Linked DNA regions of Homo sapiens: all the other regions are reported to be linked to region 1. The links are microRNA targets in miRTarBase. Many come from high-throughput screens and were not tested one by one. Region 1 holds a microRNA gene; each other region holds the end of a gene's coding sequence. Distances are between the middles of the regions.
What was found. The annotated mature microRNA hsa-miR-4500 reads UGAGGUAGUAGUUUCUU and lies in region 1 at 5,163-5,179, opposite strand. An mRNA with a match to its seed (bases 2 to 7 or 8) in the 3' UTR can be bound and repressed. Matches are read on the target gene's strand: a 7mer-m8 pairs with bases 2 to 8, a 7mer-A1 pairs with bases 2 to 7 and ends in A, and an 8mer does both.

Region 1 (7,126 bases):
TTAACATGTCTGACACATGGTGATGGCTCAGTAATTGGTGGCTGTGATATTTATAATTAATATTTATCTGTATATTTCAGTATTTTTCACTATATGATAATGCCTAGAAAGATGAATAAGGTTCAAGTAAATAGAAAGGATAACCTCAATAAGAGAGGTTAAATTATTTTTCAAACGTAGGCCTATTTATGTCATGCTGAAACCAATAAACTTAGCTATGTAGAATAGTAATGTTATTTTGGGGGACAATAAACTAAAATTGCCATTGAGGCATTACATATGACTCACTACTGTAATTACGATAACATTTTTATTTTTTATCAAAAAAAATTTCCAGGAGTAGTAAATAACATTATGGAGGTTATCATTTCTACTTAGTTGAACCTTATTCAAAATACAAATCTCCACAATTTATGTTGTAAAGGTTATAGTGTTTGTCACGTAACCTGGAAAATTTTAATTGACATGGGTCATCACAGCTCAATACATTTAAGAAAAAATCTTGAATTCCTAATCTTATTCATTTTAGTCACTGTCCTAATCTAACTCCTGAAATTTAATATTAATCCTTTACCCCCACAAAATGACTTAGCATCCTTAAAATTTCAATATTGCATTTTCTTATTTGGATTGAAGTTTAGATCTATTTAGAAAGTAGTCAGCCTGAAAGGCTGCTTTTTCACCATTTGCTTATTTTATTTGCATATTTACCTCTATAAAGGGATTACAGCTCACAATAGACATAGCAGTTACAAATGTAAATATAAATTGGTATTTTTATTAACAAGAATAAAATTTTCTGTCAATTTGATTAATAATTTGGTTACCAGTTTGGTGTTCTGAAAATCTAAACTCAGAAAAAATTAATTTCAGAAGGATGATTACAGCAAACTACAATTTGCTGTATATTTCAAGATAGCTAGAACAGAATATTTTAAATGCTGTCACCTGTCACATAAAAATGACAAATGTTTAAAGTGATAGATATGGTAATTATTCCAATTTGATCGTTATATTATCGACATGCATTGAAACATCACATTGTACCCTATAAATATGTACAATTATTATGTCAATTATAAATTTGAAAATTAAAAAAATTTTCCTGAAGAACATTACTTCAATAAATCATAGACACAGAGAAAAAAAACATAATTTTATATTTCACATAGTGCTGTCTTTAAATGCTACAGTTTCCAGGAGGCACAGTTCAGCTAAACAGTGCATTTTAATTACAACATATATTAAATATAAAGAAAATATCCTGATAATATACTTATTTATTAACTCATACTATCCTCTTCTATAAATTTTGCTTATATACAGGTAATAAATATGCACATGTAAATTAAAACAAATAAATCAAATGAAAGGGAAATAACCTTCTCAAACCAAGATGAAGGTAGGAAAAAGTAAATTTTAAATTAATACATGAAGAGAGTAAAGAAGTAATAAATCTGCAATTAAAGTTCAATTCTGAGATCCTAACTAGGTGAATCAAAGAGTGAAATGTAAGTAGGCATATAGCACAACATATTTGACTTGAAATTCTATTGAAGACCTCAACAATTATAATCTTAGTAATAGGATGTCAAGCCTGTAAAGTTTTCATTATATGGTATATTCTTAGAAAAAAAGTAGAATAATACATAGAAAGCAACCTTTACAAGGAGGTAACATTATCTATAAAAGGAAGGCAGCTTCCTCAAGAATATTATCCACCCACTTCCCAACCTGAAGTCCCAACATTTAAGGTGATGTGACAATTTATATGTCAGGGAGAAAAAATCACATTAAATAATTTCCCAAGTGCGAGGGCTTCCAACTAGGAAATTATAGGAATGGGAAAGAGTGTAAGTAACTTTAAATGTAATAATAATATTTCAGTGATATATTATTATTTCTTTCTGTGCAGGAAGAGCAAGATCTCTTTTAGAGACAGGGAAGCTTGACAGGGGAGAAAAAGGCTGGGATATTTTGGAATAATGTAGACGGCATCTTATAAACAAATCGATGGAAACAGGAGTTGCTGCTGTTGATCCTTTTGCTCTTACCATTGTTTTCTTCCCCATAGAGTTAGTGCAGAATCCCCATTCTTATATTTCATTATTCATTCCTTTGTTATAGTCTCAGAGGCATCATTTTTGATCAGATGACTTTAATCTCAGAGATAGGTGCTATATCCTCACTTCAGACATCCTATTTGCTGATTCCTTAATGGCAATTTTTTTTTCTCTTAACCACACCCTAAAACGAAGTAAAAATAAATACATATAAAAAATTCTGAAACACCACAAATTATTAAATAATTGAAAATAATGAGCAGAGATTTAACAATTTAACCAATTTTAGGAGAATTTGATATAATCAATTCAAGCCCTGATACTTAATATAAGATTCTCCCCGGTCCCCAAAGAGCAAAATCCTTTAGAATAGTGATGGCATGTTCCATTTGATACCTCCATCACATGGCAAAATACTTGATTTAATAAACATTGCAGGTTGAATAAATATTATGTTAAAAAATTAAAAAAAAAACAGAAAAGGGAAACTGTCTATAGTGTTGTCATGGTAACAAATGAAATAATTGAAACTCATAAATTCATTTCTCTGTGGTGATGTCTTCATTGAAAAAATTTCCAAGAGTAGTATATAATTCCTGTTTGAGAAGAAATTACTTACTTATTTGATGCACTAGCATATTTGGCCTTAAAATAATATTTTCTTTTTTTCTTCAGTGTATGTGTTTTTTGTTGTTGTTGTTGTTTTCTGTTCTCAAGTTCTAATAAATTTATTGAGAGGTAAATAATATTAGGATAACAGGAGCTCCTAAAAATGTGCTGATTGAAAGAATGACATAATGTTAAACAAGTAGTTTGAACTACATACTTGGAAATAATTATTCTAATTTAATAGATATTTTTCTTTTCTTCCTTTATCTTGCACTTGTAAAAGGGAAAAAAAGATATATGATTCAATGAACATATATCTCCAACTTGATGAACTTATGGACATTTTTGACATGAAAAAGAATTCCAGCTGATCCAAGTATCAACTTAAATTACATTATGATATTAATTAAATACTTAAAAACATAAATCTTGGGATGAACTCTAATTGATTCTTTGAATTTATAACTATAAAGCCAAAGAGAATTTATAAGCTAAGCACAAGCAAATTATAAACCCATAAAATTAAAATTAACAACATAAATTTGAGATAATAGAACATGTGTTGTTAACAGTAAATTTCCAACCTCAATTAAAATATGATATGATTGTTGTGATAAAGTTTTCTGTTGAGTTTCACAGGCCTAGTCAACCCTAAGCCATGAAATTACTTGATTTCTCATTTTACTCACATTAAAATGCTACCAAACTTTTGTTTCTATAGTGTCATCGGCGTGTAATTTGGGCTTCACTTGGGACAAATGTATTACATATGTAGCTTCTCTATCTCATTTGTTCATTAACTTCTCATCATACAACTCGGAGCCAAAAATATCATAAACCCAAAGGCAGCCATGGCACTGAAATAACCGATCTGTATTGTATCTGATAAAGAATATGCTTATATAAGGTTATTGTGAAATTATTATCAAAATAGAAAGATAAAACTAAAATAAAAATTTTAGTAGAGAACTTGTGGAACGTAAAAAAGCAATACTTTCAAAAACCTTCTCGCATCCATAGTAGCAAGTTTGAGAAACACTACATAGTAGACACGGAGAAAAACTAGTTTTCATACAAGTACTTTTCAAGAAACTTTTTAATTTCACCACAGAACAATTTAAGTTTATGAATTAGAAACTCGAACCCATATTTTCCAGAAAAAAAATGGTAAAATTATAGTTTTGCACCCAGACCTTTACAACACAATTTAATTTATCTTGTAATATAGCTGAAAACTCTATTTTCAGTAGACAGTAGAAATTACTTCAGCAAAGTCTCTATTTTATTTTCAATGTATGAATATCAATTATGTAAATTCCTTCATGGTAGTTTCTGGAGGTATTGTAATAAGAATAATTAAACAAAAGCTCAAGAGTAGTACTTGACAGGATCTTTTTAAAATTAATGTTGAATGCAGGTGCCTGAGGAAAAGTAAATTTAAGTATTGAAGTGGAAGATACAGAACTTCTGTCAAAATGCTGAAAGGACCTGGTTACAAATGGAGGCTTAAAATGTTTATATTACTGATTGTTAATTATGTCTAATTTACTTAGAAAGTTAAGTCTCATCTGGGCATGGTGACTCTTATTCATAATCCCACCATTTTAGGAGGCTGAGGCAGAAGGATCACTTGAGCTCAGGAGTTTTAGATCAGCCTGGGCAAAATGGTGAAACCCTGTCTTTACAAACATTAAAAAAAGAAAAAAAATCAGTCAGGAGTAGTGATGTGTGCCTGTAGTCCCAGCAACATGGGAGGCTGTGTTGGGAGGATCACTTGAGCTTAGGAGGCCAAGGCTGGGCTGCAGTGAGCCACGATTGTGCCACTGCACTGTAGCCTGGGCAACAGAGTGAGACCCTGTCTTCAAAACTAAACAAAACAAAGACAAAGAAAGAACTATTGTTCCTAAAACTAGCCTGAAGCTTGTCGTCTATTATTGAGTTCTTATTTTAATCAAATAAAATTAGTACATGCCATTTTTTCTTAGTAATCTCCTCACAGCACTAGGAAAACTTCACTCTTTCAGACATCTCAAATATTTCTGACATTTTCCTTTTCTAAAACAAAACATGTTTATTACAAAACATACCATAACATAGACAGTCATATCTATAAAATGATGGAATTCTGCCATTAATGGATACTATTATATCTATCTTACTATTATGCCTCAAGCCATGCCAAGATGAAACATTTAGTATCTTTTTTTTCTTGATCTCAAACTCAGGGTGCTTCAGGTAAGGGGTAAATACTTTTCTATGTGACTGTAACCTAAACTTCCACAAGTCATCAAAACTACGTAAAAACGAATTCACATGTGTGGTAATAACATTACTACATCACATTTTTTACTGGCTCTTGTTTTCAGAAGCTTGCAGAGACTCTGTACTTTTGCAAATGTCCTCCCTGTTGTTGTTGTTGTTGTCATTGTTGTTGTTGTGGTTGTGGTTTTTAACTCAGGAGACTTTTTGCATGTGCTCACAAATAAGTTCAAGAAACTACTACCTCAGCCATTATGCGTTTGATCTACACTTTAGCTTCTGGGCAGTACTTTCTCTCCTGGGCTCTGCTATTGCCTCTACTGGAAAGCACCATATTATTAAGGCAAAAGTTTAGTTTTATGAAGGTGTCACTGCTTCTTCCAGACACAGGCGCCATTTGCATTAGGGATCATCTTGTGTATAAGTTATTAGGGATTGTCTTGTGTATAAGTTATCTTATCACTCTGGCTGCTCCTGACAATGTTGAATTTTACCAGAAACCTGTACTCCTGGAAAACAGCAAAGGTTAAAAAATCCCCCCAGTCTTGTGTCTTCCAGGAAATGGTTCACTGCAAAGAACCACACTTCTTCCTACGACTTATATAAGATTTATGGGTGCCTTCCTTATTTACCCATGACAAAGCTGGACACAGATCTTCTGAATTCCTATTCTTTGAGTCATATAAAATTAGTTGATGAGCAGTCAGGCACCCATCTTTGGTTGATGAACTTAGATTCCTATGTCTTAATCTCGATCAAAAAGTGTTCTTTAGGGAAGAATTTTGAGATATTTGGAACCGAATTCAATGTTTTACAAACGTACCTCTTATGTTTTTATAGCATCTATTGATATGCTATTCTAAGATGAGGACAAACACACCAATATAATTTAGTAAATAGTAGTTGATAAAAGTTCTATATCCACACAGCTATTTTAAGTGAGTCAGTTGCATCCTAAAGGAAAGAGAAAAAAATATTTAGAGCAAAAAGAAAGACAGATCTTTCTTTTTTTTTTCTGTCATAGCTATACGTTCTCTGGCTGACATACACTCATAATTCAGTATGTACTTATTGAATAAAGTCAGGAAGTTGTTGTGTAATGTAATGATATAATATGCTTCAGAGAATGAAAACAAACCAATTCTATATTACAAATCTGAAAATGGACAACCACTGGCAATAGACTTTCTATGTCATAAAAGTAAAGAAAAATATAGTTGGGTCTATTGTAGATTAATAGAGATTTAAGAACCAACACAACCAAATACAATGTGTGATTCTTGATTGACTCCAGGTGTGAGCAAATCAGCTATAAATACACTTTTAGAATATCTGAATATGCTCAAATATAGAATTTGTGGGTATTTTGTAATATTATGTGATTTGTCTCAATTATTTTAGCTGTAATAATAGCACTGCAGCAAAATTTGAGAATATTAATTTTTGGAGATATATGCTTGAAGTATTTAGAATGAAGTACCAATGTATCTATAATTTACTTTAAAAAGAACATATACCTAGTGATGCAAATATAGAAAAATAGAAACAGCTTTTGCATATAGACTTGGGTATAGAGTGTATTACACTCTGTATTTTTCCAAATGTGTAATAGAATGTCCATGCCTATCGTAAAAAAGATAGAATAGAAGGAAAATAAAATATTTGAATAAATAAGATAAAAATAATAAAGTATCTATATACCTACCACTTGCTCATTTCAAAAAGGAAAGACACTTAAAAAGTTTCCTTAACACACGTGAAGCTTCTGAGAGTAAGGGAGACAACAACGCCTCCTCTAGACAAAAATGTCAGAAGGAGAGCTCTGCAAATGCCTCCCTAGCCAAAGTAAGGTGAATGGTGTAGTTAGCCAAGGAGCAAGATCGGCATGTTCTCAAGGGCTAGCATCCTATTTTCCCTGAAATCTGTACCAAAATATCTTTAGTCCTTTAAAAAATACCAAAATTAGTTTTAATAAAAAATCCATGAGTTACTTAATATTATTCTATTGGTAAATATTTTTATAAACTTACAATAATTTCATAATAAAATTTTATGGTATAGATGTGTGCATGTGAGTGTGCGTGTGTATGTGAGTGTGTGTGTGTGTGTGTGTAAGTGATTGTTTCCTTAGGATAATTTCCTACTAGTAAAATTGCTGCACAAAAGGTCTGAACATTTTTGCATTTCTTAATTAA
Region 2 (7,126 bases), 49 Mb from region 1:
TTTTTCAATTGACATTTTTGTGTGTTTCTCAGGTGTGGGTTGCTGACCGAGGAAATAAAAGAATCCAAGTATTTGATAAAGACACTGGGGAGTGGTTAGGAGCATGGAATAATTGTTTCACAGAAGAGGGACCTTCTTCAGTCAGGTAATTGTTTCATTTTATTGCAAAATGCTTGTTTTAGTTAGTGTATGTGTCTCACTTCCTCTGAATAGCTAGCTGAAAGTTTAAAATATTTATTGTTAATTTTGAATTAGGGGAAAATAGAAATATACAGAGAAATTTGATATCCAAGATTTTCAGATGCCAGGTAAAGTGAAAACAAGAAATAACATATGCTAGACCTCTCCTCTAGCCTTTATTTGGTAAATGTTTAAACAGGACAAAAATCAAACCCAGCCTAACATCAATTCTTCATTAATTTCATTTTGTGGACTATGATATTGATACTTTTAACAAATTTAAGCTAATCTTTGGCTTTGCTTACCATCATGGACATCTTATTCCTTCATAAACAGAATTAGATCAAATTAAAATTCTTCTTAAAAGAATCATTCAGCAAGTAGGTGCCTACTGTTGTTTGGCACAGTAGGGGATTAAAATGTTGAAAAAAAATACCCTTATGTTTTTTCACAGACATTTATTATGTTAAATGTCTTTCTCCTTAGGTTTACTCCTGATGGGAAGTACTTGATTGTGGCCCAGCTGAATCTTAGCAGGCTCTCAGTCGTAGCAGCACCCCCAGTGGGAAGCATTGGGGAGTGTTCTGTGATCAGCACAATCCAACTAGCAGATCAAGTTTTGCCACATCTCCTAGAAGTCGACAGAAAGACTGGAGCAGTCTATGTAGCAGAAATTGGAGCAAAACAAGTACAAAAATATGTCCCTTTGAATAGCTATGTTCCTTCATTTGGTTCATAATGTTTCTTTCCTGGGAATATTTCAAGTGGCAGTTCAGATTCTCAATTCACTAAGTGCTTAAAAATGATGTTCAAGCACAAGAATTTATTTTTCTAGTATAAAAGATCTAGTATCAGAAAGATTTGTTTTTGTATCATTAAGAATCTTATATTTTGTTGCCCTCTTGGGACTTAGTTTTATTTGTAAGTGCATAAGGATATTTTAATGAAAGGAAAGTAACTAAAAAATGGGGTTGGGAAGAGGGACTAAGGTGGTAACCTCATTATTTGCCCTGGTAGACTGATTCTCCCTGGGTAAAAAAAATGGGAATAAAAATGAGCTTGCATGATAATTTATTAAATTTCATGTGAAGAACTCCAGACCTCCAGATTGTGCAACTAACATAAAATGAGCTGCTTGAGAGATTGTAAATAAGATGAACTATTGATTAATTTGAGTACCCACAGAGTGCTGTGTCTTGACGACTTAAAAATGAAAAAGCAGGATTGCCTTTTGAGTAGCTTGCAGTCTAGTGGGGAGACAAGCAGGCAAACAGTCACAACACAGCAAAAGCGACCTTGGAGCATAGTGGGACTTTTGGAGTAGGAGTGCTGCATTTGACTGAGGGAATCATGGATACTTCGCAGGAGAAGTGAATTTGAGCTCAGACTTGAAAACTGAGGAGGAGCTTACCAAGGGACAAGGAGGAGAAAACAATAATTTCCAAGTAAAGAAGGTATAAAAAGTTAGAAGTGTACTGTAAACTTTGATAGGCTTTTAGGCCTTTTTTAAAGCCCAACTTGGCTTCTGTCCATTACCTATAAGATATTTAATGTCAGTCAGCCTTTAAATGTAGGAATAAAATGGCTGGCATCTAAGCACTTTAGTAAAAGAGGTTTTTACAAATAACTAAGGATTGTAGAGCTTCCTTCTCTTTTTTTTTCTTTTTCTTTCTTTTGTTTTACATGAACTCAACTTATTCCTAACATTTGTCTACCTCAAAGAAATTTCAAGATTATTTAGATAACATGGATATGTGCCAAATCCTTTGAGCTGTTAAGATGATAATTTCCTGCTTTCCTCCTACATCTTCTCCTCCCACTCCCTCCTTTGGTGTGAATATTGGCTTCCCAATTAAGACCTTTTTTTTTTTTTTTCCAGTTTGTTTTAGCTTATTATAGGTTTTGGAGGAACTTTGCCATTTTGTAATCTTTCAAATCATTCTTCACCCTTCCTCACATCAGCTTCCTGCTTTTCCCAGTGTTTTACTGTAAATTGTGTAGCATATGACAAATCTTGAGCTGACTTTCCTCTTCACCTGTTATGGCTGGAGTATTTTCCAGACCTGAAGGGACTCACACTTGTTTTGATACTTGGATCACATCTCCGTGAGGTTAGGAAGGTAAATCTACCAACAGGAAGCCCTGTACTCTGTATTCCAAGGCCATTGGTAAATGTGTTGGTGCCACTGATCGGACTGTATGACCTTAAACAAGTCACCTTAGTTTTCAGTGAAATGGGAATATCATTGTCTCCTCTTTCATGAATGCTGTGAGAATCAGATGTGCAACAGGTACAGACTTGCCCTTTGAAATCTATACCTCTGGATACATTAGAGGCATTTTATTAACAAAGGCCCTTCTAAATGTGCTATTTATTTGACAATAACTATCAGATTTGCCTTAATTTTGTGTTTATAGCATTTATCAAAACGTATCCTCATAGACTTTATGCAGATTAATATGGTCAATTGATTTGGATAAAAGAAAGTAATTTCAGGGTTTGTTTTTAAGCCAGGACAAGAAGTGCAAATGCCTCTTTGAAGCAATTTAGGCTAAACTGATTTTGAAATTTCAAAATGTTTTATTTTACTTTGTTTTATTAAGCCAGGACAAGAAGTGCAAATGCCTCTTTGAAGCAATTCAGGCTAGGTAAACCGATTTTGCCATTTCAAAACGTTTTATTTTACTTTGTTTTATATCAGAGTCTTATAAAACCTGCTGCAAATATTTCTGAATGTCTTTGTAAAAGTGTTTGTTAGTGTACCTGTGATTATAGTACTTCACTTTTTTCCTTTGGATTAATTGGTTAAATGAATGAGAAATGTGTTATGTTTTTTACTAAAAAGTATAAATTAAAATTTTGGAAAGAAAAGGCAATATTATCTGGCTCCCCAATTAAAGTTTGATTTTATTGTCACAAAAGCAGTCTATAACTTTTTATTCCTTTAAAGAATTTCAGCAATTATGAAATCACAAGTTGATGCTGAAAGAATATCCCACTTTTCACACATATAGCGTGTAAGCTGATGTGCATAAATATGACTAGAAGTTGCTTAGAACATTTAAAGAATGTAGCTTGTTTTGAGGTGGTGGGAGGGTACAACTGACAGTAATAACTAGCTAATTGTCTACATTTCTGCATTAAAAGTGGAACATCTTTATACTTCTACTTTTTAGGTCTATTCTTGGAGTGGGGAGGGGAGAAAGTGTTCTAAATTAGAAAACCAAAGGCTATAGATTTAGCTCTATCTTTCCCTACCTGTACCATCAGATTGGGTCTTTCAAGTGGAATATTTATCGATCAGAGAAAACTTGGATGAAATCTGATGGTGAACAGAGATTTACCACGAATTTTTTTTTTTTTTTTTTTTTTTGAGACAGAGTCTCGCTTGGTCGCCCAGGCTGGAGCGCAGGAGTCTCGCTCGCTCGGTCGACCAGGCTGGAGTGCAGTGGCGCCATCTCGGCTCACTGCAAGCCCCGCCTCCCGGGTTCATGCCATTCTCCTGCCTCAGCCTCCCGAGTAGCTGGGACTACAGGCGCCCGTCACCACACCCGGCTAATTTTTTTTTTTTTGTATTTTTAGCGGAAATGGGGTTTCACCGTGTTAGCCAGGATGGTCTTGATCTCCTGACCTCGTGATACGCCCGCCTCCGCCTCCCAAAGTGCTAGGACTTTGTTCTTAGGTCACTTAACAGATTAAAAGACTGCTTCAAGCAATGTAGTGTAAGGCTACGGCAATAAAGTCCTATTTTGTTTTGCCTTTGCTGTTTTTAAGCACTTTTGCATTTGAAAACAGGACAGATTGGATAGTCAGCATTAAAATGGAAACTCAAATTTTTGCTTTTTAGGCTTACCAAAATAAATGAGAGTTTTTAAAAGTCCTAAATTTATTACTTTAATTTGTTGTATTCTCTGCTATATATTTTCAGCAACAATAAAAAATCAAAATAATCATCTTTATTGATTCAGTAAAAAGTTTTGAGACAACAAACATATAAAAGCACTCAGTCAAGTGTCCTCTGCTCTAATAGTTCCCTACCTGGTTGGGAAAACAAGCTACTTAAACCTTGTCTTTTAGTAGTTTTAGGAGATACCATTTTTGGCACTTGTGTTATGTTACATTCTTGATACACAAGAGGTCAGTAGCGTTCTGCTTATAAGCATTTCTTGAAATCAAACATGGGCTAAACTTCATACTTTGGTTGTTTTTTTTTTTAATTGAAGCTACAGTGTTCACCATACTTTCATTGTTTTTCTTTTTTCTGCCACTTGCTTACATCTTAAGGAAATTGCTTTATGGGTGAAACATTTTCCAAGCATTGTTGGAAATTTTTTACTGGTTAATTGGACTTGTCCACAATTAAAAAAAAAGTTTAAACCTTTTCAGTAATTCAGACTAACAGCCAGAAGTGAATTAACTTATTTTAAATGAAGGTGAAACTATAATCTGAATGTGTGAGTTTAGTACAATAGAGAATGAATTTGTATTAGTGGGGAATCATTCTTTTTTCTCCCTAGTAGTTGTTTTTTGTTGTCGTTGTTGCTGTTGTATAAAAAAAAAAAACAATTTCACCTTGTGGTTGCTACTTTACAAATAAGAAAAATAAGTTTTTTATAAAGACTCTTAGGTCATTTCTTCATCAGCTACTCTGGAATCCATGAGTTTATAAATTAATCCTCTAAACGCTAAATGACATGTAGATGCTCCTTTGGTGTATAAGAATTGAATAGAATTTGAGCAATGAAAAATAACACTACTTAAAACTTATTTTTTCCATTGTAAACAATGAAGTAATATGACTTAATTCTGCTTCTATGTAATTCATAAATAAAAAACTCACTGTAACATTAAAACAAGCATGTCCTACATGAGTTACATTTAAATAAATTAATTTTAATTTAAATTAATTTAATAGATTAATTTGCGTGAGTCACAACAAATTGATATTATAAACTTGCTTCTCAATTTTCAGCCGCTTTATCAAAGGAAGAAAATTTTAGTTGCATGGTGCAGATTCTCAGATTTGTTCCTAGTGAGAATTAGTTACTGTAATATGTGTTAGAAATTTTTTTTTACAATACGACATTTATATACAAATTGTCACAATCACCAGTTAAATGTTTTTATAACATTTTTCTTCACAGTGTGTATAAAGAAGTATTTAAATATTTTGATGCTTCCTGTATTGAACTGAAATACTTATTTTTACTTAACTAAAGGGATGAAGGAACTAACTATATGTACGTTTGTTTTTAATCAACATTAATTGAGGTAAATGTATTCAGTTTTGTGTGGAGCGTATGGGGGTTACGTTTGTGCAGTCTGTGTGCATATGTGTAAATATAAATGTGCATCTAAAGGGCATTATGCCCAACTAGGTCAGAAGAACTGGATCAAGACAGTTGAAACAACATGGCTAAACGTTAAGTCCTCATCGGAGGACACCTGGTTTGGCAACAAATTATTTGAAAAAGTTTTGGAAAGTTTGTTGGCCAAAAATATTACAAGCCTTGTTAAGAAAAATGTTGCAATCTTAGACAACATTGAAGTGTAGATTTAATGGCAGTTTAATCGACAAGATAGTCTATATATCTAGTAAATAGCTCCGTGGTGTTGTTTCCTTTGGCTACTACATTTTAAGGGGGCATCCTATAAACTGTTTAACCCAAAAGCAGTGTGATGGTTAATATTGAGTGTCAGCTTGGTTGGATTGAAGGATGCAAAGTATTGTTCCTGGGTGTGTCTGTGAGAGGGTTGCCGAAGGAGATTAACATTTGAATCAATGGACTGTGAGAGGCAGCCCCACCCTCAATCTGAGTGGGCACCATCTAATCAGCTGCCAGCGTGGCTAGAATAAAAGCAAGCAGAGGAACGTGGAAGGATGAGACTGGCTGAGTCTTCTGGTCTTCATCTTTCTCCCATGCTGGATGCTTCCTGCCCTTGAACATTGGACTGCAAGTTCTTTAGCTTTTGGACGTTTGGACTTACACCAGTGGTTTGCCAGGGGCTCTCAGACCTTCTGCCACAGACTGAAGGCTGCACTTTCAGCTTCCCTACTTTTGAGGTTTTGGAACTCGGACTGGCTTTCTTGCTCCGCAGCTTGCAGGTGGCCTGTTATGGGACTTTACCTTGTGGATCATGTGAGTCAGTACTCCTTAAACTCCCTTTCATATATCCATCTATCCTATTCATCCTGTCTCTGTAGACAACCCTGACTAATACAAGCAGGTAACCAAAATAACAGTGTTTGGAAATAATTCTGAAGTCTCAGAGGGTGATCATGTAGTAGAGTGAATAGAATTCTGCACTTTCCTCCAGAACTAAGACAATGAGTACAAATAATAGAGTGGTCCATTGGATCAGCCCAATAAAAGAACCCTCCTCTAGCAGTGGAATGGGCTGTAGCAGTGGATGTGGTAAAGCTTGGTGTTTCACAGCTTGGAATCCAGAGTTAGGTTGACCTACGTTCTAATCCACGCCCTGCAACTAATTTGTATTGTTTTGAGCTATGCCTCATTTTTTTGCTCATTTGTGAAATGGGAATACTAGTATTTTCCTTATGGAATTATTGTGAATACAAATAAGATCATGCATGTAAAGCATTAAGCCCTGTCTCTGACATGCAATAAGCACTCAACAAACCTTAAGAGATTCACGTGTGGTGTTTCAATCAGACAATGGCAGTCATGCTACCACCTTTGGGCAGGGTTTGGGAGAATGGTGAGACCACATGAACTTCCCTATTATATAATTCTGTGTTTAGTCACAGTATTGAAAATTAAAGGTAAGGCTGTAATATACTAAAGCATCTATCATTTAGAAATGCCATTTTAAAAAACATGGCTATTTTTAGTTGGCATTAATGCTGTTTATCCAACAAGTAATTTATGATCAAGGTAAAGACTCCCACCTTCTGCAATTTATATTCTAGTTGGAGAGACAGAG
Region 3 (7,126 bases), not on the chromosome of region 1:
ATCTCTACTAAAAATAACAAAAATTAGCTGGTTGTGGTAGCACGTGCCTGTAATCCCAGCTACTCTGGGGGTTGAGGCAGGGGAATCGCTTGAACGTGGGAGGTGGAGGTTGCAGTGAGCTGAGATCGCGCCACTGCACTCCGCATTGTTGACAGAGCGAGACTCTGTCTCAAAAAAAAAAAAAAAAAAGGCCTGGTGCGGTGGCTCACACCTGTAATCCAAGCACTTTGGGAGGCCAAGGCGGGTGGACCACGAGGCCAGGAGATCGAGACCATCCTCACTAACACAGTGAAACCCCGTCTCTACTAAAAATACAAAAAATTAGTGGGGTGTGGTGGCAGGCACCTGTAGTCCCAGCTATTCGGGAGACTGAGGAAGGAGAATGGCGTGAACCTGGGAGGCGGAGCTTGCAGTGAGCCGAGATCACGTCACTGCACTCCAGCTTGGGCAACAGAGAGAGACTCCGTCTCAAAAAAAACAAAAAACAAAAAACAGGGACACAGAATAACCAAAACAATCTTGAAAAAGAGGAACAAAGTCGGAGGAGTCACAGTTCCTTATTTATTTTATTTATTCATGTTTTTATTGTTATTGAGATGGAGTCTCACTCTGTCGCCCAGGCTGGAGTGCAGTGGTGCAAGCTCAGCTCAGTACAACCTCCGCCTCCCAGGTTCAAGTGATTGTTCTGCCTCAGCCTCCCAAGTAGCCGGGATTATATGCATGCGCCACCACACCTGGCTAATTTTTATATTTTTAGTAGAGATAGGGTTTCGCCATGTTGGGTGTTGGCCAGGCTGATCTCAAACTCCTGACCTCAGGGGATCCACCTGCCTTGACCTCTCAAAGTGTTGGGATTACAGGCGTGAGCCACTGCACCTGAGCTTGTATTTATTCATCTATTTTATTTATTTATTTATTTGAGATGGAGTCTGGCTCTGTCACCCAGGCTAAAGTGCAGTGGCACGATCTCAGCTCACTGGAACCTCTGCCTCCCAGTTCAAGCAATTCTCTGCCTCAGCCTCCCAAATAACTGGGATTACAGGTGCCTACCACCATGCCCAGCTAATTTTTTTGTATTTTTAGTAGAGACGGGGTGTCACCATCTTGGCCAGGCAGGTCTTGAACTCCTGATCTCATGATCCACCCGCCTTGGCCTCCCAAAGTGCTGGGATTACAGGCGTGAGCCACCATGCCCAGCCTATTTATTTTTCTTGAACACAGTCTCTGTCACTCAGGCTAGAGTGCAGTGGCATGATCTCAGTTCACTGCAACCTCTACCTCCCAGGCTCAGGTGATACTCTCACCTCAGTGTCTCCACTAACTGGAACTTCAGGTGCCCACCACCATGCCCAGCTAATTTTTTGTATTTTTGGTAGAGAAGAGGTTTCACCATGTTGCCCATGCTGGTCCCCAACTCCTGAGCTCAGGTGATCCACCTGCCTCGGCCTCGCAAAGTGCTGGGATTACTGGCATGAGCCACTGTGCCTGGCCGACTTTGAGTTATTTATTATTTTAATTTAATTTTTGAGGCAGAGTGTCGTCACTTTGTTGCCCAGGCTGGGTGGATTACAGGTGGCACGGTATCAGCTCACTGCACCCTCCACCTCCTAGGCTCAAACGATCCTCCCACCTCAGCCTCCCAAGTAGCTGGGATTACAGGTGCATGTCACCATGTCCAGCTAATTTTTTTTGTTGTTGTTGTTGAGACAGAGTTTCACTCTTGTTGCCCAGGCTGGAGTGCAATGGCATGATCTCGGCTCACTGCAACCTCTGCCTCCCTCCTGGGTCCAAGCGATTCTCCTGCTTCAGCCTCTAGAGTAGCTGCGATTACAGGTGCGCACCACATGCCCAGCTAATTTTTTGTATTTTTAGTAGAGACAGGGTTTCACCATGTTGGCCAGGCTGGTCTCGAACTCCTGACCTCAGGTGATCCACCCATCTCGCCCTCCCAAAGTAAATGGGATTACAGGCGTGAGCTACCGCTCCTGGCCTGTCCAGGTGATTTTTATATTTTTAGTAGAGATGAAGTTTCACCATGTTGGCCAGGCTGGTCTCTAACTCCTGGCCTTACCTGATCTGCCTGCCTCAGCCTCCCAAAGTGTTGGGATTATGGGCATGAACCGCTGCCTGACTTTAAATCTTACTTCAAAGCACAGTGACATAAGGATAGATACGTAGAATAGAATAGAGCTGACAGTCCAGAAGTAAACCATGTAGTTATATGGTCAACTAACTTTTGACAAGGGTATCAAGACCATTCATTGGGGGAAAGAACAGTCTCTTCAACAAATACTGTTGAGACAACGCGATAAGCCACATGGAGTGAAGTTGGACCCTTACCTTACACGTATATAAAAATTAACTTGGCCAGAGGCAGTGGCTCACGCCTATAATCCCAGCACTTTGGAAGGCCGAGGCAGGAGGATCACTTGACATCAGGAGTTCGAGACCAACTTGGCCAACATGATGAAACCCTGTCTCTACTAAAAATACAAAAAGTAGCCAGGCGTGGTGGCACAATTTTGTAATCCCAGCTACTCGGGAGGCTAAGGCGTGAGAATCACTTGAACTGAGGAGGCAGAGGCTGCAGTGAGCTGAGACTGCGCCACTGCACTCCAGCCTGGACAAGAGAATGAGATTCCATCTCAAAAAAAAAAAAAAAAAAAAAAAATTGGCCGGGCGCGGTGGCTCACGCTTGTAATCCCAGCACTTTGGGGAGGCCGAGGCAGGCGGATCACGAGGTCAGGAGATCAAGACCATCCTGGCTAACAAGGCGAAACTCCGTCTCTACTAAAAAATACAAAAAAATTAGCTGGGCGTGGTGGCGGGCGCCAGTAGTCCCAGCTACTCGGGAGGCTGAGGCAGGAGAATGGTGTGAACCCGGGAGGCTGAGCTTGCAGTGAGCTGAGATCGCGCCACTGCACTCCAGCCTGGGCGACAGAGCCAGACTCCGTCTCAAAACAAAACAAAACAAAACAAACAAAAATTAAAATGAACTACAGACCTAAATATGAGCTAACATTATTAAATTATTGGAATAAAACATAGAAGTAATTTTTTTTTTTTGAGATGGAGTCTCACTCTTGTTGCCCAGGATGGAGTGCAATGGCATGACCTCGGCTCACTGCAACCTCCGCCTCCTGGGTTCAAGAAATTCTCCTGCCTCAGCCTTCTGAGTAGCTGGGATTACAGGCACCTGCCACCACACCTGGCTAATTTTTTGTATTTTTAGTAGAGACGGGGTTTCACCATGTTGGCTAGGCTGGTCTCTAACTCCTGACATCAGGTGATCCACCCGCCTCAGCCTCCCAAAGTGCTGGGATTACAGGCATGAGCCACAACGCCCGGCTTACAAGACTTTTTTTTCCAGATGGAATCTCGCTCTGTTGGCTCAGGCTGGAGTGCAGTGGCGTGATCTCAGCTCACTTCAACCTCCACCTCCCAGGTTCAAGCGATTCTCCTGCCTCAGCTTCCCGAGTAGCTGGGATTACAGGCATCTGCCACCATGCCTAGCTAATTTTTATATTTTTAGTAGAGACGGGGTTTCACCATGCTGGCCAGGCTGGTCTTGAACTCCTGACCTCAGACCATCCACCTGCCTTGGCCTCCCAAAGTGCTGGGACTACAGGCATGAGCCACCATGCCTGGCTACAAGGCTTTTAAAAATTAGCTGGGCATAGTGGTGCACTCCTGTAGTCCCAGCTAATCAAGAGGCTGAAGTGGGAGGATCACTTGAAACCAGGATTTGGAGGCCGCAGTGAGCTGCTGTGGTGCCACCGCACTCCAGCCTGGGCAACAGTGAGATCCTGCCTGTAAAACCAACAACAACAACAACAGAATTATGTAGTTTCACCAAGAGGTGGAAGGTGGAAGAGCCTCACTGACATTCAGACCAATTTAATGACAGGTCTTGGATTGACATATACATATTTTGAAACGAAATTTTGCTCGTCGCTCAGGCTGGAGTGCAGTGATGCAGTATCAGCTCACTGCAACCTCTGCCTCCAGAGTTCAAGTGATTTTCCTGCCTCAGCCTCCAGAGTAGCTGGGACTACAGGCACCTGCCACCACGCCTGGCTAATTGTGTATTTTTAGTAGAGATGGGGTTTCACCACGTTGGCCAAGATGCTCTCGATCTCCTGACCTTGTGATCTGCCCGCCTTGGCCTCCCAAAGTCCTGGGATTACAGGCATGAGCCACCACACCTGGCCTGATATTTTATTTTTTTGAGACAAATTCTTGCTCTGTTGCCCAGGCTGGAGTGCAGTAGCGCAACCTCGACTCACTGCAGCCTCTGCCTCCCTGGTTCAAGCGATTCTTCTGCCTCAGCTTCCCCAGCAGCTGGGATTACAGGTGTGTGCCACCACACCCAGCTAATTTTTGTATTTTTGGTATAGACAGGGTTTTGCCATGTTGGCCAGGCTGGTCTTGAACTCCCGACCTCTACTGATCCACCTGCGTTGGTCTCCTAAAGTGCCAGGAATACAGGTGTGAGCCACCATGCCTGGCCGGGTCTTGGATTTTTATAAGAAGAAAAAAAAGGTGTGGGGTAGGGGAGAGCCAGGTGCAGTAGCTCATGCCTGTAATCCTGGGAGGCAGAGGTTGCAGTAAGCCAAGATCACGCCACTGCACTCCAGCCTGGGCAACAGAGTAAGACTGTCTCAAAAAAAAAAAAAAAAAGAAAAAAAAAAGAAAATTAAGGAAATAAAGCAGTTCCACTAGTGATGTTTTTCTGCACTACTGTTTAATGCTACCGACATTTTTGCCTTAAGAGAACAAGCTTAAAAGGCATGCTCACCCTGCGATTAAGACGCATCTACACAACACAAACGGATGCTGAGCAGAAATGACCCAGAGGCACCATCGTCTTTTCAAGCAGTTTATTTCCATTTTCAGTTCTAATGTTGACTTTTTCATAAATATTCACCTGGAATCTCCACTAAGGCTCCTCATGAGCAGGGCCCAATTCCTAGAATGTGCTTGGTGAGTTAGCCCCTGGTATACAGTAGAGGCTCGGCAAATATTCTACAGCCTCCTTTCTAATGATTTCCCAGTGGCCAGCGTTTCCCAACATGTGAGATGTACAGTTCAAAAGGCCACAGGGAAACTGACACAGCAGGGCCATTTCAAAAGGGGAGGATCTTCCAATTCTTCTGATTTTAGGAAATTCTGTTGCGTGCTAACCTTGAACACATGCTAGCCTCCCTTTCTCAGATTTGGAAAGATCTAAAGTAATAGTTATTTCTCTAAAATGAAACATATATTTCATTTTATATATATATATATATATTACAGATACCTTCTATCTATGGCAATTTATGTTGGATTATTCCACCTATGGCAATCACATCAAGTTTTCTTTCCTTTTTTTTTAAGAGATGGGGTCTTGCTATGTTGTCCAGGTTGGTCTTGAACTCCTGGGCTTAAGCTATCCTCTCACCACGGCCTCCCGAAGTGCTGGGATTATAGGTATGCATCACCGTGCCTGGCCAAATTCTCTTTGTAAATACATTTGAGTGGTAGTAACTAATTTTAAAGGAAAAAAACCTGAAGTAATCTAGAGGTGGAACACAAATGAGGTAAAATATTAGAGAACTGATTCAGCAAGGACTAAAGATTGGGACGCAATGCCCTCTGCACAGTCTGGTTCTTGAGGTTGCGGTGGGTGTGTTTCCAGTGGCGTAGGTCGGTCAGATACTTCTGGCCTTTGGGAGTGCGTGGATGTGACGCGGTCAGTGCCACATGTGAACCAGGTGCTGCGAAGTCCTGTGAAAGTCACACACCATATGGTGCACTACAAAGGTATAGGTTAAAGGCTGAAGCTTGAAACATACAAAAAAAAATCCTCTATAGAGCAAGATATATTCCTAGTATTCAGCTGTTCCCAACCAAATAAAAAAAAAAATTAAGGAAAAAAATAAAAAAGGAAGCATTCCATCAGTGGCTGTATTGAACAAGTAATGTATCATCAAGATATAATCACCCAACCTTTATTATTCCAAGTGCACTACTGTCAAGAGACATGTTACAGCCGCTAAGGACAATGTACTTCAGCTTTGAAACCTGGGCAAGAAGCCACACGACTGCATGAGACAAGCCGTGAGAGGCACTGCTCAGGAGGAAACGCTGGGTCTCTTCACCAAAATTAGATTACAGCATATTCTGGGAGCACACGCCCTTGTACTGCTTACAAACCAAGGGAGAAAGACCAACGCATCCATCATCCCAACGCCTTCCCTGGAACAGGGAAATGAGCATCATTCTGTGGGAACAGCGTCTTTAGACTCTGCATCAGTTTGTTCCACTTCAGCATCCGCGGCAGCTGGGGCAGGAGCAACTCTGGTTTGGGCACTTTCTGCCTCTGCTGCCATTGTCTCGGCGCCATTTCCAGCCTCTGCAGCCTCACTTCTGGCCTTGGGGACGCCCTTCTCATGTGCCGTTCCACAGGGCACCTGCTCTTCCAGCAGCTGTTCGGCTTGAGGATCACTACCGGCCTCCGCTGTGTCCGTGGGGCCTTCGTCCTCAGCCGGCTCCCCGCTGCTCTCTGGAGCGGGCGCTCCTTCCCCATCTACGGCCCTCACTGCTGCTGTAATCACCTCTGCTAAGACGTCCGCGGCCACCTCCTCAGGTGTCTCTTTCTTATCCTCACCTCCTAAATTGTCATCTCCTTCCATTTCTGGATCAACAGTTTCACTGGTGAAAGGGTCCTCACCCTGGCCAAAGAGGAAACACCGGTCAGCGTGGTGTAAGCAGAGCTCAGGAGGCCCATGATTGCGGGGATGTCAGCTTTTCAGAACCAGCAGTCCACAAGGGAAACACTTCTGTAAATTATGCCACAGGAGTGAATCCTACATGTTCTCAGAGCCTACAGATTCAGAAAACACCTCGGGGAGATATTCTGCAATTTTTTTTTTTTTTGAGATGGAGTCTCGCTGTTGCCCAGGCTGGACTGCAGTGGTGCGATCTCGGCTCACTGCAACCTCCGCCTCCTGTGTTTTTAGTAGAGATGGGGTTTCCACCCACCTCAGCCTCCCAAAGCGCTGCGATTACAGGTGTGAACCACCATGCCCGGCCCATTCTGCAATTTTTTTTTTTTTGAGACGGAGTTTTGCTTTGTTGCCCAGGA
Region 4 (7,126 bases), not on the chromosome of region 1:
AAGCCCTCTGAACAGTACCCATCTCTCAGTGTGCAGAAATTTCTCTTTCACCAAGTTAAAAAATAATTCAAGTATGGTCTATTCCAGAGAGAGGAGGCATTCCCAAGTTGTCAGAATCCTAAAGCAGACATCATGGAGTATTTATTTCCATGCTCCTTCTAACTTGGTCATACCAAATTTGAACGTGAAAATTCTTTTCAAATGCTCAGCATTTAGTTATATTGACAAATAATTCCTCACTAAATTCATCCAAATAGAATATGCATTCTTAAACATTTTAAAATAGATTTCAACTGAGGAACAAGTACAATAAACAAATGTTATATAGTAAATAAACTTTATTTATCTGTTTCTCAGAGATGACACTGCCAACAATCACAGATTTGCATACAATACAGTTATGTATTGGCTATTCACAATTTACAGTAGTGTTTTTTCCTCTGAAAAATATAAGTACAAAAGCTAAGTAAACAATGAGGTACTGCCATTTGGGATTTTTTACATGTCTTAGCTTAAAGAACTGGTCTTTAGCAAATATTCAACAGATCAACCTGAATAAAATAGTCAATTAAATGCTCTAATTTATCAGAAAAAATCCACTAAGTTTCACCTCAAAATGTATTGCACAAGTCTTTTTAAAAAATCACCCTAAAAATAAATAGGAAAGGTAAGCCGTTCTTTAAAAAGAATGGATGAAAGGAATATTATGTAAGCCCATAAAGCAGGTTAAGTTATCAAAATATCTTTTAAACAACATAAAACTCTTCCCAAGAGAAAACTGAAGAAAAAACTATCACCATTTCTCCACTGATAAAATCTATTTTAAAGGCAGTCTGCAACTTATCTGTGGGCCAGATTTTTCTTGGTCTTTTGGCTACATGAGGGGCCCTGAATGACAACTTCATTCTCAAAGAGTAGCAAGTGTGGACAGTTTTCCAAGCAGCAGTCACCCAATGTCACTCTTCTTCAAGATGAAGATCGGAGCCATGACTGGAAAAGAAAAAGGAAAAGAGAATAAAGAAAGGGGGCAAAAAAATCCAAAACATTTAGGTTGACTTTTTGGGATATTTGTTTTTTCAAGTTTGAAATAAAATTCTATTCCATGGTCTAGAGACTGCAGTAAAGAGGCAGAAATAAGGCTGGGTGTGGTAGCTCATGACTGTAATCCCAGCACTTTGAGAGGCCAAGATGGGAGAATCACTTGAGGCCAGGAGTTCGAGACCAGCCTGGTCAACACAGCAAGACCCCATTCTGAAAAAAAAAAAAAAAAGTAGAAATTGTCTAAACACTAAATCTTAAAGGTATCTTCTAAAAATTAACATTCTTGCAATGATGCAAACCAACCTATAGTCAGCAATCCTGGAAAATGGCATTTCTAAGTGAAATTTGGAACTGCAACCATTTACCATATATCGAATGCTACCAGTTTATACAGTAACCCAGGAGTAAACACGCTGACTTGGCTGAATCTCACAAATATTGGACTGGAATTAAAGATGACAGGCTGGACCCAGTGGCTCATGCCTATAATCCTAGCACTTTGGAAGGCCAAGGTGGAAAGATCACTTGAGGCCAGGAGTTTGAGACCAGCCTGGCCAACATGGCAAAACCCTGTCTCTACTAAAAATACAAAAAAATTAGCCGGCCGTGGTGGTGCTTGTAACCCCAGCTACTCGGGAGGCTGAGGCAGGAGAAATCACTTGAACTCAGGAGGCGGAGGTTGCAGTAAGCCGAGATCATGCCATCGCTCTCCAGCCTGGGCAACAGAGTGAGAGACTGCCTCAAAAAAACAATAAAAAATAAAGATGAGAAAGAGCTCTTTCCTCTTATCCAGTGTGCTGATTATTCTACAAATTGCAATTCTCCCAGCATGACATAATAGCAAAAGACAAACAGCATTTTGGTGTGGAAATTTATGTCTCATCTGGAATTAAGAAATTTAATTTAAAAATTAAAAACAGCCTGGGCAACATAGTGAGATCCCATTGCTACAAAAAATAGAAAAAATTAGACAGGCATGATGGTGTGTGTCTGTAGTCCCAGCTACTCAGGAGGTTGAGGCAGGAGGATCGCTTGAGCCTGGGAAGTCAAGGCTGCAGTGAGCTGACTGTACCACTGCACTCCAGGCTTGGCGACAGTGACACCTTGTCTCAAAAAATAAATTAATTAGAAATGCTGGCTGGGCATGGTGGCTTATGCCTATAATCCCAGCACTTTTGGGAGACCAGGGTCAGAGGACTGCTTGAGCCCAGGAGTTCAAGACCAGCCTGGGCAACATGGCAAGACCCTGTATCTACAAACTTTTTTTTAAAAAAAATAGCTAGGTGTGGTGGCATGTGTCTGTGGTCCCAGCTACTCAGAAGGCTGAGGCGGGAGGATTCCTTGAGCCCAGGAGGTCAAGGCTGCAGTGAACTGTGTTCACGCCACTGCACTCTAGGCTGGTGTGACCATGCTGGGGGGCAAAAAAAAAAAAAAAAGCTATGACATAGCCAAAGTCTTCCTCATAATGTTTCTCAAATGAAAATGCTGGCCAGGAGCAGTGGCTCACGCCTGTAATCCCAGCACTATGGGAGGCCAAGGCAGGTGGATCACCTGAGGTCAGGAGTTCGAGACCAGCCTGGCCAACATGGTGAAACCCGGTCTCTACTAAAAATACAAAAAATAAGCTGGGTGTGGTGGCGGGCACCTGTAACCCCAGCTACTCAGGAGGCTGAGGCAGGAGAATCACTTGAGCCTGGGAGGTGGAGGTTGCAGTGAGCCGAGATTGCGCCACTGCACTCTAGCCTGGGCAACAAGAGTGAAACTCCGTCTCAAATATAAAAAAAAGAAAAGGAAAAGAAAATGCTAAAACCAGTAGTCACATCAAGATATGAGTTTAAAATCCCATAAAAATAAATTACCAAGTAAGATTAATAGAGGCAAACTTTCCATATATATTAAGTGGATAGGGGGAGTTTTAGTCTTCTGAATTTGTAAATGAACAAATATTTCACTACTCATAATGTACTACTAATAGTATATTATTTATAAAACTAGTTCAATAATCATGTTGGTCCTAGGAACCTAAAGAAGACACCAACAAGATCTTCTGTTATACGTAAATTCCTTGTCAGTTTTTATTTTGAAACCGTAGCTTGATCTGTTGTGGGAAACAAAATTCAAGATCAGTTCAACAATGCTGCATCATTAAAAACAAAAAAGCTAGACGTTTTCTAGTTTAAAAAAGACTAGGAAAATATGACCACTAAATGCAATGTGAAATCTCAAGTGGATCCTGGATTCTAAAAAATTATGGGAGACATTATTTGGAAAACTGTAAAAAACTGAGTATTATGTACTATATATTAGTATTAGCTAATATTAAACTTCCTGAGTGTAATAACTGTACTGTATGTAGAAAAATGTCCTTGTTCTTAAAGATACATGCTAAAGTACTTAGTTTATGTTTACAATTGTCAAATGCTTGCAAGCATGTCGGCAAGTAATTGCCAAATGTTACAAATGGGGAATAATATAAATGGAGAGAGAACAAGAGTGACAGCAAGTCAGAAAATCTGGCCAAACATTACTAGGTGAAGGGTATATGGGTGTTCATTGTACTATTTTTGCAAATCTTATGTCTGAAATGTTTCAAACTAAAAGTTGAGGAGACAATCAATTAATCAATTAATAGAAATGCTGCACAATATACATTTCCAGTGATAATTGATATTCAGCTGCAATAATAACAAGTACAATGCAGTATTATTTTAAAAGGAAAACATTAAGACTTAATGGGTTAGCTATAGAATTTACAGTTTTTCAATGTTCACATTTATTATCAAAGTAACCTAATAAAACCATGCATTGTACTGCCAGCCATTGTAATGTGGATGACAAAAATAAGACAGTTCTGGATAATCGCTAAGGCAAATCAAATAATATATATTAAAATCAAAAGGAGGCTCAAATGAAGGCACAGAAGATTTTTAAAGATAAAAGCTTAGAGGGCCAGGCACAGTGGCTCACGCCTGTAATCCCAGCACTTTGGGAGGCCAAGGTGGGCAGATCATGAGGTCAGGAGATCGAGACTATCCTGAATAACACGGTGAAACCCTGTCTCTACTAAAAATACAAAAAATTAGCTGGGCATGGTGGCGGGTACCTGTAGTCCCAGCTACTCAGGAGGCTGAGGGAGGAGAATGGTGTGAACCCAGGAGGCGGGGCTTGCAGTGAGCCAAAAACACGCCACTGCACTCTAGCCTGGGTGACAGAGCGAGACTCCGTCTCAAAAAAAAAAAAAAAAAAAAGCTTAGAGGCTGAGGTAGGAAGATCGCTTGAGCCCAGGAGTTCGAGACCAGCCTATGCAAGACCATCACTACAAAATAAAATAAAATAAAAAAATAGGTGCCTTAGAGTCCCAGTTATTTGGGAGGCTGAGGTGGGAGGATCCCTTGAGCCCAGGAGCTGACACAGGAATGAACTATGATCACACTACTGCCCTCCAGCCAGGGTGATAAAGGCTTTACTTATTTTTTAAAAAAAAATAAATAAGGCCGGGCGCGGCTCACGCCTGTAATCCCAGCACTTTGGGAGGCCGAGGCGGGCGGATCACGAGGTCAGGAGATCGAGACCATCCTGGCTAAAACGGTGAAACCCCGTCTCTACTAAAAAAAAATACAAAAAATTAGCCGGGCGTAGTGGCGGGCGCCTGTAGTCCCAGCTACTTGGGAGGCTGAGGCAGGAGAATGGCGTGAACCCGGGAGGCGGAGCTTGCAGTGAGCCGAGATCCCGCCACTGCACTCCAGCCTGGGCGACAGAGCGAGACTCCGTCTCAAAAAAAAAAAAAATAATAAATAAATAAATAAATAAATAAATAAATAAATAAATAAAAGCTTAAAAGAACGGAGAAATGTTGTATCTTGCCATTTTAAACCTTGATACTATTATTAGCTGGATATTAACAATCACTGAGAGTATTTATTTTAATTATAGTGAAGCCCTACTAATTGTGATCTGTTTTTGATTTTGTGAAAATTCTAGCAAAGGCTGAGGTAAAGATGTATGGTACATTTTCAGAGGGTGCTAAATCAACCTAATAGCATGAAAAATACATAGAGATGAGGGGAGAGGGTTTAAATGATGAAGACAGTCAACTGCGTTGAAACATTTCATATGCCTGCATTTCACTGTAATATGTTAATCAGGAAGAATCACATTCAATTAAAGTAGGCTGCCTAACGGTCTCCTCAGGACAAATGTGTTGTCTTGTGTTAAACTGTCTGATTTCAGGAAGTAATGAAGCTATATTTTAAAATTGATCTTACTAGTTTTCATTATTTCTGACTGGCCTTGACTCAGGCTTTACAGGATTTTGAATTCTCACGGAATATACCACTTCATTTTTATCTAGAAAATGATTTTTCATTTCTCTCTCACAATCATAATTTCAAAGATCATTCTTGGAAAATTAAAAACAAAAGGGAAAATAAGTTACATAAATACTTTTTTGGATTCTTTAACAAAATTTCAAAGAGCAATTTTCAAACTTTCAATTACTCTTTAAAGAAATGAAATTTCCTAAAATTATATAACTCTTACTGGTGGTAGTAATTTTTAACTATTATCGATCCATATAACAGAATGAACAGAAAATACTTATATTAACCCATAGCATAATCATATATTTATTAAACAAGAGCAAAAGAATTCCAGCAAAATGGTTAGTATCAGGCAACACATTTGATTTTTGCACAAAAGACACAAGACATTGTTCTTCACTCACCACATGTTAACTAAGCACAGACTGATGGTTTACTCAGAAGATACCACTGCGAGGTGAAGTAAACTACAAAGCCAGGAAGAAAAAAAGCTTATTGGGTTAGTTTTAAGACTTAATATAACACATAGATTGTATGTGTATATGAAGTTCATAGGATTACAGACTGTACTTAAATTTTTCTCAAATCTCCCCAAATCAAGGGTGTACAGGCAAGGAATAAGGAATCTGTAATACCTCCCCCCATATCCTAGGTAAATATAATATTATGTAGCTGAGATTTTACTTGCAACTTTCATTTGAAGACTTAAACAACGTAATGAAAGGTGTACTGCATATTTTAAGTACATATTTACCAGCTGAATTACGGGGCAATTATTTGCTTTACAAAAGGATCTCTTTCATAATTCCATGAAAGTACACATTAAAATTTGATTTACATAATCTCAATTTACCCTAAAAAGTTTTCGGGAAAATGATGATGAATTTGAAGAGCCATGTGTCTATATGTTGAATTCTCATTCCTAATGTGTCAATTTGATCACTGAATAACTCTCTTGTAATTCAACAATGTATCAGAAATGGTTTCAGGAATGGTGACCCAAACTGAAATTTCAATTTAAGGAAACTCAATCTCAAATATAGTTTTTACTGTGACAAACCTTAAATAAATTCTATGCCCCATTTTAAGATGGTCATTGTCCAAAATCATTAATTACCTTCACGGTGATTTAAAATGGCAGCATTAAAAACAAAGATTGCTTATAAAATCTGAGTCTATTCTTGGATAGTGTGGCCAACCTCAGAAACATCATTTTATTTATCTTTCATATTTAAAGTTAGTAAAAAGCAGCAAAACCAAAAGACAAGCTAGAAAATAATATGTGCAACACACACAACACAATGAGGTTAATATCCTCTCTGGCAGAAGTATACAAAATCCATGTATATGGATGTTCCCTATGTCTATGCTTGTAAAGTACTGAAAATCTTGAAAACATAAGTAAATGGAATGAGGAGGAAACTGGTGAACTAAACTGTAGGACATCCATATAATCATACAATCAGCCATTGAAAAGAATGAGACCAATTTGTAATAAGGTGGAATAATATAAAAATATATTAAGTGAAAAAAGCAAGCCATTGCATACTCTCATTTTTATAAAATAAAATGAATGATAAAGGAGTAACTATAAATATGTAATTACATGGCTTAGAAAACATGGAGATATTCCCCAAACTGTTCACAGAGATGATACTGGCATAGCAGAAGTAGTCTGGAGGCTGAAGATCATGAGGGACTCCCTTTCTATGTTTCTGGCTTATAATATTTTTTCCAGTGATCACGTATTACCTTATTCTACCAAC

Region 2: the mRNA of NHLRC3 is a reported target of hsa-miR-4500. Seed matches in the 3' UTR shown: 8mer at 1,892-1,899.
Region 3: miRTarBase lists AKAP8 as a target of hsa-miR-4500. Seed matches in the 3' UTR shown: 7mer-A1 at 5,576-5,582.
Region 4: the mRNA of GOLGA4 is a reported target of hsa-miR-4500. Seed matches in the 3' UTR shown: 7mer-A1 at 475-481.

Annotation. Positions count from the first base shown.
Region 1 is chr13:87,613,509-87,620,634 of GRCh38, forward strand. It overlaps MIR4500 (microRNA 4500), which reads right to left and starts at 5,232; the gene lies at 5,157-5,232. It overlaps LOC124900338 (formin-like protein 5), which reads right to left. Exons shown (of 2, transcript XM_047430855.1): 2 at 759-2,247. All of the region lies in intron 1 of MIR4500HG (MIR4500 host gene), which reads right to left.
Region 2 is chr13:39,047,008-39,054,133 of GRCh38, forward strand. NHLRC3 (NHL repeat containing 3) reads left to right here. Exons shown (of 7, transcript NM_001012754.4): 6 at 33-145; 7 at 667-3,102. The coding sequence ends at 919. LOC105370169 (a long non-coding RNA gene) reads left to right here and starts at 6,065. Exons shown (of 5, transcript NR_187783.1): 1 at 6,065-6,321.
Region 3 is chr19:15,348,658-15,355,783 of GRCh38, forward strand. It overlaps AKAP8 (A-kinase anchoring protein 8), which reads right to left. Exons shown (of 14, transcript NM_005858.4): 14 at 4,728-6,713. The coding sequence ends at 6,258. All of the region lies in intron 3 of LOC124904643 (a long non-coding RNA gene), which reads left to right. Among named protein-coding and RNA genes, the nearest start is that of BRD4, 20 kb to the left of the region's middle.
Region 4 is chr3:37,359,944-37,367,069 of GRCh38, reverse strand. GOLGA4 (golgin A4) reads right to left here. Exons shown (of 24, transcript NM_002078.5): 23 at 5,765-5,827; 24 at 191-990. The coding sequence ends at 5,798. Among named protein-coding and RNA genes, the nearest start is that of APRG1, 18 kb to the left of the region's middle.